Linked DNA regions of Homo sapiens: region 1 is linked to region 2. Evidence: fine-mapped expression QTL. A gene starts in region 2. The other region holds a variant in brackets. All regions are shown on one strand. Distances are between the middles of the regions.

Region 1 (5,359 bases), 140 kb after region 2:
GAAGCCCCGCCCTGGCCCCTTCCCCACACCCGCGCTGGGGCTCTCCGGGTGGGGCTGGAGGGCGGCCCTGCTGGGGGCACTCGGCAGAGAAGGAAAAGTACTTTTCCTTTCACAGTCTGTAAACTGTCTGGAGAGCTTCAAAGTTGGAGAAACCATAAAAAAGAAAATAAGAAATAACAAAAAGTGAGGTTGCCATAGAAACCATCCTCTCCCCTCCCCTGAGCCTGCCGGGGCTGGCACCGGAGCGTGGAAAAAGCGCCTCGGCTGGCCCGGGCTCACACCAGGAATGCGGCCGCAGCTGAAATGGGGGCAGGAGTCGGCTCACACCGCAAGGCAGAGCAACATTCCAGACGCCGGCCTGGAAAACAGCGCTCCCCTCGCAGAGCGGCGGCCTCCTCGGCCAGGCCACGGGCTCGGCCGCCTGTGCGTTCCCAGGGCTGGACAAGAGCAAGCCTCGGGGGCCGGGAGGAATGTGCTTGGCCCCGAGTCAGCTCCTTTAGAAAAAAAAAAACACGGTTCTGGGGGGCCTCGCCAGGGGGACACACGTTCTGCAACCTGGCGGGTGTGGGCCACAGCACCGGGCACCGGGGACAGCCTCCCTGGCGGGCGGAGGAAGAGCCCCACATGGCAACGCCACAGTGTTTCCAAGCAGCCCGGTTTCTAGGTGTTCCCAGGAATCCAGCTATACCAGTGGTGGCCAAGGCGCTGGCCGGGGGGCCGAGAGCTCAGTGGGCAGTGGCTGAGGAGCCCGGCCACAGGCCCCATCTGACCCCACTCCTGAGGCTGGCGTCCCGGCGGATGGGAAGGGTGGGCGGCAAGGGCTCTGGCTGGTGGCCACCGTGCGGCAGGCCGGGCCTCGACGGCCACGTGATCTAGCCCTGGGCCAGCTCTCACTTAGGGCCTCGGCCATACGTACATGGCTTAGCCCCAAGTGGCCCCTGAATCGGATCTCCCTTCGCTCCTCACCCCCAGGGCTGTCTCCGCCGAGCACATAAACCCTGGCCGAGCGGCTGCGCACAGGTGCCAGCGCCTAGCCGATTCCTGTCACTGCAGAGATGTCCCCGCCCCCTCCTGGGATGGCTGGGACGCGGTGGACCGGTTGATGGTGTGAGGGCTGCTGTGGGACCACGGGGGACACCGCGTGGCACTCCAGCCGCTCCCGTCACCAAGGCCTCACTGGCTACAGCCCCGGCCACACGGGTGCCGTCCCCACGACCAGGGTGGCTCTGCTTGTTCTCCCGCTGCGCCAGAGGCAGCTCCACGGTGGCATCCAGACCCCAGTGAGCAGCGGGTCCAGACCTTCCAGCCTTTGGCTCTCCAGCCAGAACCCCAGAGACACCAGACGAAGGGTCATTCATGTTGGCCCAGGTGACAGAGAGGCTCCATTCTCCGTCAGGCAGCCAGTCAGCCGCGGTGCCCAGGTCCTGCTAGGGGTCCGAGCCTTTGTGTAGCTGAGGTGCCCTGGCATTCGGCCCCTCTGGCTTGGTGGGGGGGTGCCAGGCCCAGGCTGTGGGGCGACTGGAGGAGGCCCCACGGCTGAGGGTCTGCACCTGAGCCTTCTCCAGGCCCTCGCTGCACCCCTCCTTGCTGTCCCCACAGCAGCCCCCACGCTGGGAGGAGCCTTCCGCCCAGCCCAGGCCCACCAAGCCCTGCAGCCGGCCTTGCTGGGGAGCAGCTCCTCATGGTTCAGCCACTGTGGGCCTTGACAGCTCCCCTCGGCTCCCCTTGGACCCCAAGGCCTCCGAGTCCCCGTGCTCCCTGCCCCCGTGGCTTCCTCCTTTCTAGGACATTCCCCACATCAAGGGCTGTGTCGGCCCAGCTTCAAATCTTTCTGGACCGTCCCCAGCCCCCAAGCCACCAGCCCCCTTCCCATTCAGGTCCCTGGGAGGGCCTGGCTGCTCCCCAGTCCCCCACCCACTGCCACCTACCTCTGGGGGCCCCGGGCCGAGTTCCCCCAACCCCACCTCCAGCCCTGGGCTGCGGCCTCGCCTCTCCAGACAGTGGCACAGCCGGCGATGGACTTGGGCCCTGTCCACCTACCTAGGTGTGCTGCCGCAGCCTGCTCCTCCGTGGCTCTCCCCTCAGGCCTGTGGAGACGACACAGTGAGGCCCCTGAATGCCCTGCCTGGGCCCCGACGACATGGCATCCCTGACCTGAACCAGGGCTAGTGGCTCCAGGGCAGATTCAGGGCCCCAGCACAGCAGAGGCCTGCGAACCCCACCTCGGGGCCATGGGCAGGACGGGGAGAGTCCTCTGGCAGCCTGCACCCAGCTCTCTGCACCTCGGAACCGTGGGCTGCCCTGTGCAAATCCTCTTTGTCTAAATTCTTGATGTGCTTATGGCCTTGGAGCAGGAGTGGGACCGACCACCCCATTTCCACAGTCTTCTGACAAGGCGGAGGCCTCCCAGGGTGCAACTGAGAAGATCCCGGAGGGCGGGAAAGACCCTGAGCCCCTGAGAGACGGCGAGGCTGGAGCCTGCAGGGAGCGACTTAGGAGCGGCGGAAGTCTCAGCAAGAGGGACCAGGAGGCCCGGCGGTGGTATGGTGCCCCCTTGGAGGAACAGAGGCCCAGTGTCACCTGGGAGTGCCATGACTGGGAAAGGAGAGGTAGCAGTGAGGATGGGAGGGGCCCAGGGGTCCTGCCGGGGCCTCCCCGTGGAGACACTCACTGCCCTGGCTCCCTGAGGGGTGCAGCTCCTGCCCTGAGGCAGTCTCTGGGGGGGCCCACCACCCACCAGGGTTTCTGAACTGCAACAAGTGATGGGCCTGTTCCTCCTGCCTGGACAGCGCCTCGGGGCACCCACGGGCTGGGGCAGGGCCATGGCCAGGCAGGATCTGGGTCAGGGAAGCAGGTGGGCCCTGAGGACGTGGCCATGGCCCTGGCGGGGAGGAGGCAGTCCCTGCACGTGAGGAAGCTGGGCCCGGCAGGTGCCTCCGATGCTCCTGCTGCAAGGACGAGGGGCTGGCTCTGTGTGGACACCCACCCTCCTCCCCGGGCAGTGAGATGCACTTCGGAAATACATCTTACTTTCTTCTTTCTCTCCCCTTTCCTTC[C/CCTTCCTTCT]CTTCCTTCCCTTCCTTCCTTCCCTCCCTCCCTCCCTTCCTTCCCTCCCTTCCTTCCTTTCCTTCCTTCCCTTCCTTCACTTCCTTCTTTTTTTTCTTTCTTCTTTTCTTTCTCTCTTGTTCCTTCTTCCTCTCTCTCTCTCCTCTCTCTCTCTGCCTCTCTTTCTCTCTCTCTCCTCTCTCTCTCTCTCTCTTTTTCTCTCCTTTCTTTCTCTAGATAGAGTCTGGCTCTGTGACCCAGGCTAGAGTGCAGCGGCATAATCACAGCTCACTGCGGCCTCCAACTCCTGGGCTCGAGCAAGCAATCCCCTCGCCTTAGCCTTCCAAGGAGCTGGGACCACAGGAGTGTGGAGTGTGCCACCATGCCCATGGGACCACAGGAGTGTGCCACCATGCCCAGATAATTAAAAAAATTTTTAGAGAGGAGGTCTCACTATGTTGCCCAGGTTGGTCTCAAACTCCTGGGCTCAGGAGAATCCTTCCACCTCCGCCTCCCAAAGTGCTGGGATCACTGCACCTGGCCTTTGTTGATTTTTTTTTTTTTTTTTTTTTTAGCAATAGAGACAGGGTCTCACTCTGTTGCCCAGGCTGGAGTGCTGTGGCCTGATCATGGCTCACTGCAGACTCAACCTCCCAAGTAGCTAAGATTACAGGCACGTGCCATCATGCTCAGCTACTTTTTAAATTTTTTTGTGTGGGGATGGGGTCTCACTATGTTGCCCAGGCTGGTCTCAAACTCCTGGGCTCAAATGATCTTCCCACCTCGGCTTCCTAAAGTGTTGGGATTACTGGCATGAGCCACCGTGCCCAGCTGAGATGTTCTTTCTGTGTGAAGCCCCAGGTGTGCCGGGCTGGGCTGTGTCCGGAATTACCCATCAAATGGGCCTGGGGAGGCCTGCTGGGCTGGCACCCTCCCGCGGCCTCCTCCCGCCGTCCTGCCCGCTGTGGCTGGCCAGTTCCTGTCACTTGTGGCTCAAGGGGGTCAACAGCCCACCCAGAGCTCGGAGAGAGCCAAGGGCTCCTTGACTCTCCAGGTTCCTACCCGTCGACAAACTTAAATCCTACAGGCAGCAACTGGGTGAAAAAGAATGAAAGACAAGACTTTGAAATGACTTCATTTCGAGTGGGGAGAACAGGCTTTGCCGGACCCCAGGACCCACGTAAGACACAGGAGTGCGGGCGAGTTGGGGAAGCGGGGTACATAATTCAGCACCGAGAAGAACTAGTCTGCCAGGCTGCCAGCCTAAGAGAAAGGAGGCAGGATTACAGGAATCCTGAGAGCTTTTACAGAACCCCCAGGGCTTTGAGAGAACGGGCAGAGCCAGCAAGGAGCTCGGGAGTCTCGGCCTAGGGAGGAGGTGGTGCAGATTTGCAGGCATCGGTGCCCCACAGACGGCGAGCAGGCCCGAGGCCAGTGTCCACAGGGACCGCACATGGGGAGGTGGTGCAGGAGCCCTGGGCGGTGGACTGGGGGTGCGTCTGGGCACCCACTGCGTGCCTGGGACTGCACCTTCATGCGGGTGCTGGTCCCTCACTCCTGTCCCTCACGCGCTGGCCATGACGGCCCTGGCACCGGCTGCCCTCTGGAGGCCCCAGTAAGTCCGCACCACCCCGGCGCCATCTCCTGCCAGTTCTGCCTGAGGCAGCAGCTGCCACCACCGCGCAGACACATCCTGCTCCCTCCTGACTTTCGGAGGCCTGGCCTGGCATCGGCCTGGCAGTCTCGGCCTCCCCGTCGGGGTTGGTGTCTGGGGATCAGGGTGAAGACACAGCGACCCGGGCCTCACCCAGGGTCTGTGTGTGGCTGTTCTGCAGCGCTGGACGTCTGAGGCCTGTGTCGTCCCCACAGACGCGCGCTGTGGACACACTGGCGCCCACACAGAGACACAGAAACACACAGAAACACACAGAAAGACAGAAACGAAGACAGAAACACAGAGACACAGAAATACAGAAACACAGAAACAAACACAGAGACACAGAAACACACAGAAACACACAGAAACACAGAAACAAACACAGAAACACAGAGACACAGAAACAGAAACACACAGACAGAAACAAACACAGAGACACAGAGACACAGAAACACACAGAAACACAGAAACAAACACAGAGACACAGAAACACACAGAAACACACAGAAACACAGAAACAAACACAGAGACACAGAAACACACAGAAACACAGAAACAAACACAGAGACACAGAAACACACAGAAACACACAGACAGAAACAAACACAGAAACACAGAGACACAGAAATACAGAAACACACAGAAACACAGAAACAAACACAGAGAC
Region 2 (5,359 bases):
ACAGCTGTGCCCTCCCCAGGCTCCAGCCCTCACCTCCCCCAGGCTATTTCTCAGATGTCCCTTCAGAACTAGAGCCCTTGGGCCCCCAGCCCCATTGACACGGAACGGGCCCCCTGTTGTATCTCAGGTCACTGCTGTGGTTGCAGCCACAGGGGCAACACCTGTTACTGCCACAGCGTCCGACCTGGGGCCAGCGTGCATTCAAACGCACTGCTCTGAGAGGCCAGGACGTCCATGGGTTGGGCGCAGGGGGCGGCGGTGGGAAAAGGTGTCAGGCACCATGGGTCCCGACCTGGAGCCCACGTGCCAGCTGCAGAGATGGGCACTGAAGGCTTTTGAGCAAGAGGAGGAGGTAACGCTGGCCCCTGGGGATGCTGTCAGGGAAACTGAGGCAATCTTGAGCCCTCGGAGCAGAGAACGGGCTGGGCCAGGGGCTGGAGGACCCTGGGCCAGCTCCAGCTGGGTCCTGCTCTGTTCCCACCCCTGCTGCTTATTAAACCCTTGTAAAGCAGCACAGGACTAAGGTAGGGAAAGTACTTTAGGAAATGCCCCTTTTTCACATTTTATCGGCAGGTGTTTCATACAAAGAATACAAGTAACTGATGAATGAAGGGGGCATCTTGTGTCCCCACAATCCTGCTGTGCGCACACCACAGGTGAGCCGTTCTGCCTAAGGGAACAGCCCCGGCCCCTCCCTCCGGCTCCTCCCCAGCACCGTCTCCTCCACCCAGTGGCCTGGCCGTGGATGCTGCCTGTGGCCCAGCTTTGAGACACCGCCCTGACACGTGTCCAGCCTTACGTGGAAGGATTTGTCTGTTTTGTGGCATCCTAGTAGATGCCACGTTAGTAGATGCCATGTTAGTAGAATGGATGTGGGCATTTCTTTGTAAGTTCCCAAAAGCCTATGAGGGTTTTTTCCACGATTCCGTTCCCAGTTTGGCTTTTGTTGTTGTTGTGGCTGTTCTTGGCCCCCCTGGGCCCTGCAGTGGAGTGGGGGGCTGCACCTGGGAGCCTCGAGCTGAGGCCCAGCCCCTCCTGCCCTGCATTTTCCTGCCAAGCAGCACCTGAGACTCTGAAGCCGATGCCTATACAGGCAGAAACCTGCCAATTCCAGCTTGAACGACTGGAGGGTCCTGAGGATGGGGGTCCCTGGGGTGCCATCATGGGCAGGGTGCATCTGTTTGGGTATGCTGCCCCCCAGCTGGCGGGGCACCGGGGACAGGCACAGCCACACTGGGGGCATTTCTGGTCTTGGAAGCCTTCTTGGCTCTTCCGGAGGGAAGGCGGCTGCTGGGTGCCCTGTGATCCACCCGCGAGCTGGGCTGTTCGGCTTGGTCTGCAGGGGCTGGGGGGCTGCATTTCTTTTCACCAGCTGCACCCACCCGGCCCCATCCTGGCTGGCACCGAAGGGAGCAGCGCGCCGTGACATCCTCCCCTCAAGCCTGGTGAATGGTGGTTCCATGAGGCTGGAGTCAGTGGGTGCCTGTTGTGACAGCTGGATTTCAGTGTTGGTACAGGAGCACACACCTAAGGGGCGGGCCAGTGAATGAGTGTGCGAGGGTGGGCTAGAGAACGAGCAAGGGAATGAGAGAGAGTGGGTTAGAGAGTGAGTGAGCCAGTGAATGAGTGAGTGAGCAGGAGTGGGTTAGAGAGCGAGGGAGTGAGTGAATGAGTGGGCTAAAGAGGGCCGGGCGCGGTGGCTCACGCCTGTAATCCCAGCACTTTGGGAGGCCGAGGAGGGCAGATGATCTGAGGTCAGCAGTTCGGGAGCAGCCTGGTCAACATGGTGAAACCCTGCCTCTACTAAAAATACAAAAACAAAATTAGCCAGGCGTGGTGGCGGGCGCCTGTACTCCCAGCTACTCAGAAGGCTGAGGCGGGAGAATGGTGTGAACCTGGGAGGTGGAGCTTGCAGTGAGCCGAGATCGTGCCACTGCACTTCAGCCTGGGAGACAGAGCGAGTCTCAAAACAAAAACAAAAAACAAAATTAGCTGGGCATGGTGGTGCATGCCTGTAGTCCCGGCTACTCAGGAGACTGAGGCAGGAGAATAGCTTGAATCGGAGTCAGAGGTTGCAGTGAGCCGAGATCGCGCCACTGCACTCCAGCCTGGGCAACAGAGCAAGACTCCATCTCAAAAAAAAAGTGGGCTAGAGAGTGAGTGAGTGAATGAGTGAATGGGAGTGGGTTAGCGAGGGAGTGAGAGGGTGAATGGGAGTGGGTTAGAGAGGGAGTGAGAGGGTGAATGGGAGTGGGTTAGAGAGTGAGGGAGTAAGCGAGTGAATGTCTCTTGGTGCTGCTGTAACAGAATACCTGAGCGAGCCTGGGTAATTTCTAGGGAGCAGAGTTCTTTCCCAGCTGTGGAGGTTGGGAGTCCAGGGTCATGGTGCCAGCAGGCTTGGTGTCTGGTGAGGCCTGATCTCTGCTTCCAAGATGGCGCCCAAACACTGCATTCCCCGGAGGAGAGAGGGGAGGAAGGCCACGTGTCCACATGGCAGAAGGCAGAGAGGAATCCATGCCCAAGCTGTCTTGACAGCTACAGGAGTTTGTCTGTGAGGGCGGGGCTCCCATCAGGTTCCACCTCTCTACACTGTTGCTCTGGGGAATGAGTTTCTCACTGTGAATCTGGGGGGCACATTCAGACCCTATTGTGGGTGAGTGGGAGAGCATGGCTGTGTCACTGGGACAAGTGGCCATGAGTCGGGGGAACTGAGGGGTTTTCAGTGTCCTCACCCGTATGTGTTGTGGCACCTGTGCCAGGCACCAGCGTTCTGCCCTCCCCGGCACAGGCGCATCACCGAGTCCCAGGCCCGCCTGCTGGGCATTTTCCTGCCAAGCAGCACCTGAGATTCTGAAGTCGATGCCTGGATAGGCAGAAATGGGCCGGCAGGAGGCTCCTGACAGACGGGTCTGTGCAGTGCCAGCGCAGGCAGGGTGCTGTGGCCAGGTCCTACACCTTTATGGTCAGGGTTCCAAGACGTCATGAGACGGCTTGTTCAGCCAGTTAGTTGTCGGTGCCCCTCTGAACAAGGACCCCCCCAAGGAAGGGGGTGGCCTCGCATGGGTGGCTGGGGATCCTGCTCCGTCCCACATGTGGCCAGCATGGCCGACACTGGCATTTCTCAGCTCGACAACAATTTTTCTGACTTTGGATATTTTCTAGATTTTGTGTTGTAAGAAAAAACACTTGGCAGTCAAATACTAGGCAGATTGAAATGCTGACTTTCTCACTGTTTCATTTTGTGATTGAAGTGCGTGCAAAACACTCAATCTGGTAGGGATGATGCCCGCGCGGAGCTGACCCTTCTCCTATTGTTTTTCCAAGCTGGAGAAGAAGCAGGCGCTCCCTCCATTCCAGCCACAGATCACAGACGACTACGGTCTGGACAACTTTGACACACAGTTCACCAGCGAGCCCGTGCAGCTGACCCCAGACGATGAGTGAGTCCCACTGGGTGCGGGTCCCTGGAGCACCCCTCGGGCAGCCCCATGGCAGGCCGGCACCTTGGGCAGCTGGTGACCCAGCCTGCCCTTGAGTCCCACCCGCCTGGTGTCATCTCTCCAGTGGGCGTTGGGGGAGGATTCTTATGCGAACGTGACTCCGCTTCCCCCAAGGGAATGAACACACGGTCACCCCCCTCCCCCCTGCCACCTTTGCCCACAGGGATGCCATAAAGAGGATCGACCAGTCAGAGTTCGAAGGCTTTGAGTATATCAACCCATTATTGCTGTCCACCGAGGAGTCGGTGTGAGGCCGCGTGCGTCTCTGTCGTGGACACGCGTGATTGACCCTTTAACTGTATCCTTAACCACCGCATATGCATGCCAGGCTGGGCACGGCTCCGAGGGCGGCCAGGGACAGACGCTTGCGCCGAGACCGCAGAGGGAAGCGTCAGCGGGCGCTGCTGGGAGCAGAACAGTCCCTCACACCTGGGCCCGGGCAGGCCAGCTTCGTGCTGGAGGAACTTGCTGCTGTGCCTGCGTCGCGGCGGATCCGCGGGGACCCTGCCGAGGGGGCTGTCATGCGGTTTCCAAGGTGCACATTTTCCACGGAAACAGAACTCGATGCACTGACCTGCTCCGCCAGGAAAGTGAGCGTGTAGCGTCCTGAGGAATAAAATGTTCCGATGATGTGGAAGCTCCTCTGATGCCTTTTTTCCGTGAGTGGCGCCTGCCCCACATCTCAGACGCAACCCACACGTAGGGGGGCAGCTTAGGAGCCAGCGGGACACAGGTGGGGGCGGGAGTTGAAGTACCTGTGGGGACACACCGCAATCAAGAATTGTTTCCTAAAAACCCCGGTAAGTTCCTGTTGTTCTTCCTGCAGAGTGTGTCCCAGCCGCTGTGGTCTAGGGTGAAGTGACACCTTAAGCAGATGGCAGCTGGGCCAGCCAGCTCACTGGACCGATGGGGGAAATTGGATCATAGAGATTCTAAAACGTGGCCCACCAAAGCACAGTAGACCAAAAAAGAGAAAAAACTGAACACTAAATCTGCACAAATCATTTCTGACCACACTAAGCAGTGCCTGCACGATGCCTCGTGCGACGCATTTGATTTTTGGAAGATATTCTTATCTGTCACACAGCACTGAGAGTTAGGGAAAACTAAAAGATGTGCATGTGACGGACCCCAGCCTTAAAGTTGAACGTGATGACCCTACAAACACCCAGAAACACAGGCACTCTTCCCAGCGGCGCGGACCTCCTGCTCCCGGGAACACACCCGCGCTCTCCGTCCACCCACCCCTCAGGTGAAGGCACAGCTGTCCAGAGCTGAGGCTTCCTAGAGGCAGGGCTGCCAGCTGCCAGGTGTCAGGTGTGGCAGAGCCGTCTTCTGAGCTCCCTGGGAGAGGGGGTCGCGCCACCTCATGCCTCTGAGTGAGGCCTGGTGCACAGGTGTGGAAATTGCCACGCAGCCCTCTTGGCCAGGCGCAGAGACCCCAGGCCTCCATGACTCAGGGGCCGCTCCACCCCATTGTGCGGCTGGTGGCTTGGGGAAGAGAGACGTAAAACCCCAAGTTAGGAGGTCTGTGCCGCGCCTTGCCTTGCCTCAAGGTCATCCCCAGCAGGTGAGCGTGGCCCACCCTACACACTCAGGTTTCTCAGGGTGCCACTCCGTGCCTGGCGCTCAGCACGACATGGTGGATTCACACCCAAGCCCCAGGTGCCAGGACAAGAATGCCAGCGCTGGGCATACTGCCGGCCCATTCCCCCCGGCCCGAGACCCTGGACACCCGCCCCCCCCCGGCCAGCTCAGGCTTCTAGGTGGAATGTGGAGACGGGTTTCAGCCACACTCCCAACCTTAGCTGTTGAGACTCAACTCCAAAGACGGAAAGTTAGAAACCCCAGGGCAGAGT

The links. PIP is the estimated chance that this variant, and not a neighbour inherited with it, causes the effect.
Region 1: its variant is the best candidate, but not a certain one, in a credible set for the expression of PRKCZ-AS1 in whole blood (INTERVAL, PIP 0.56).

The regions. Positions count from the first base shown.
Region 1 is chr1:2,322,057-2,327,415 of GRCh38, forward strand. MORN1 (MORN repeat containing 1) reads right to left here. Exons shown (of 14, transcript NM_024848.3): 13 at 2,041-2,087. Among named protein-coding and RNA genes, the nearest start is that of MORN1, 67 kb to the right of the region's middle. RefSeq lists an enhancer at 46-653 and a silencer at 310-515. The variant C/CCTTCCTTCT (reference allele first, on the strand shown) is at 3,057.
Region 2 is chr1:2,181,259-2,186,617 of GRCh38, forward strand. It overlaps PRKCZ-AS1 (PRKCZ antisense RNA 1), which reads right to left and starts at 2,617. Exons shown (of 2, transcript NR_146290.1): 1 at 2,313-2,617; 2 at 536-1,483. It overlaps PRKCZ (protein kinase C zeta), which reads left to right. Exons shown (of 18, transcript NM_002744.6): 17 at 3,325-3,440; 18 at 3,664-4,137. The coding sequence ends at 3,751. It also overlaps a transcript of FAAP20 not described here.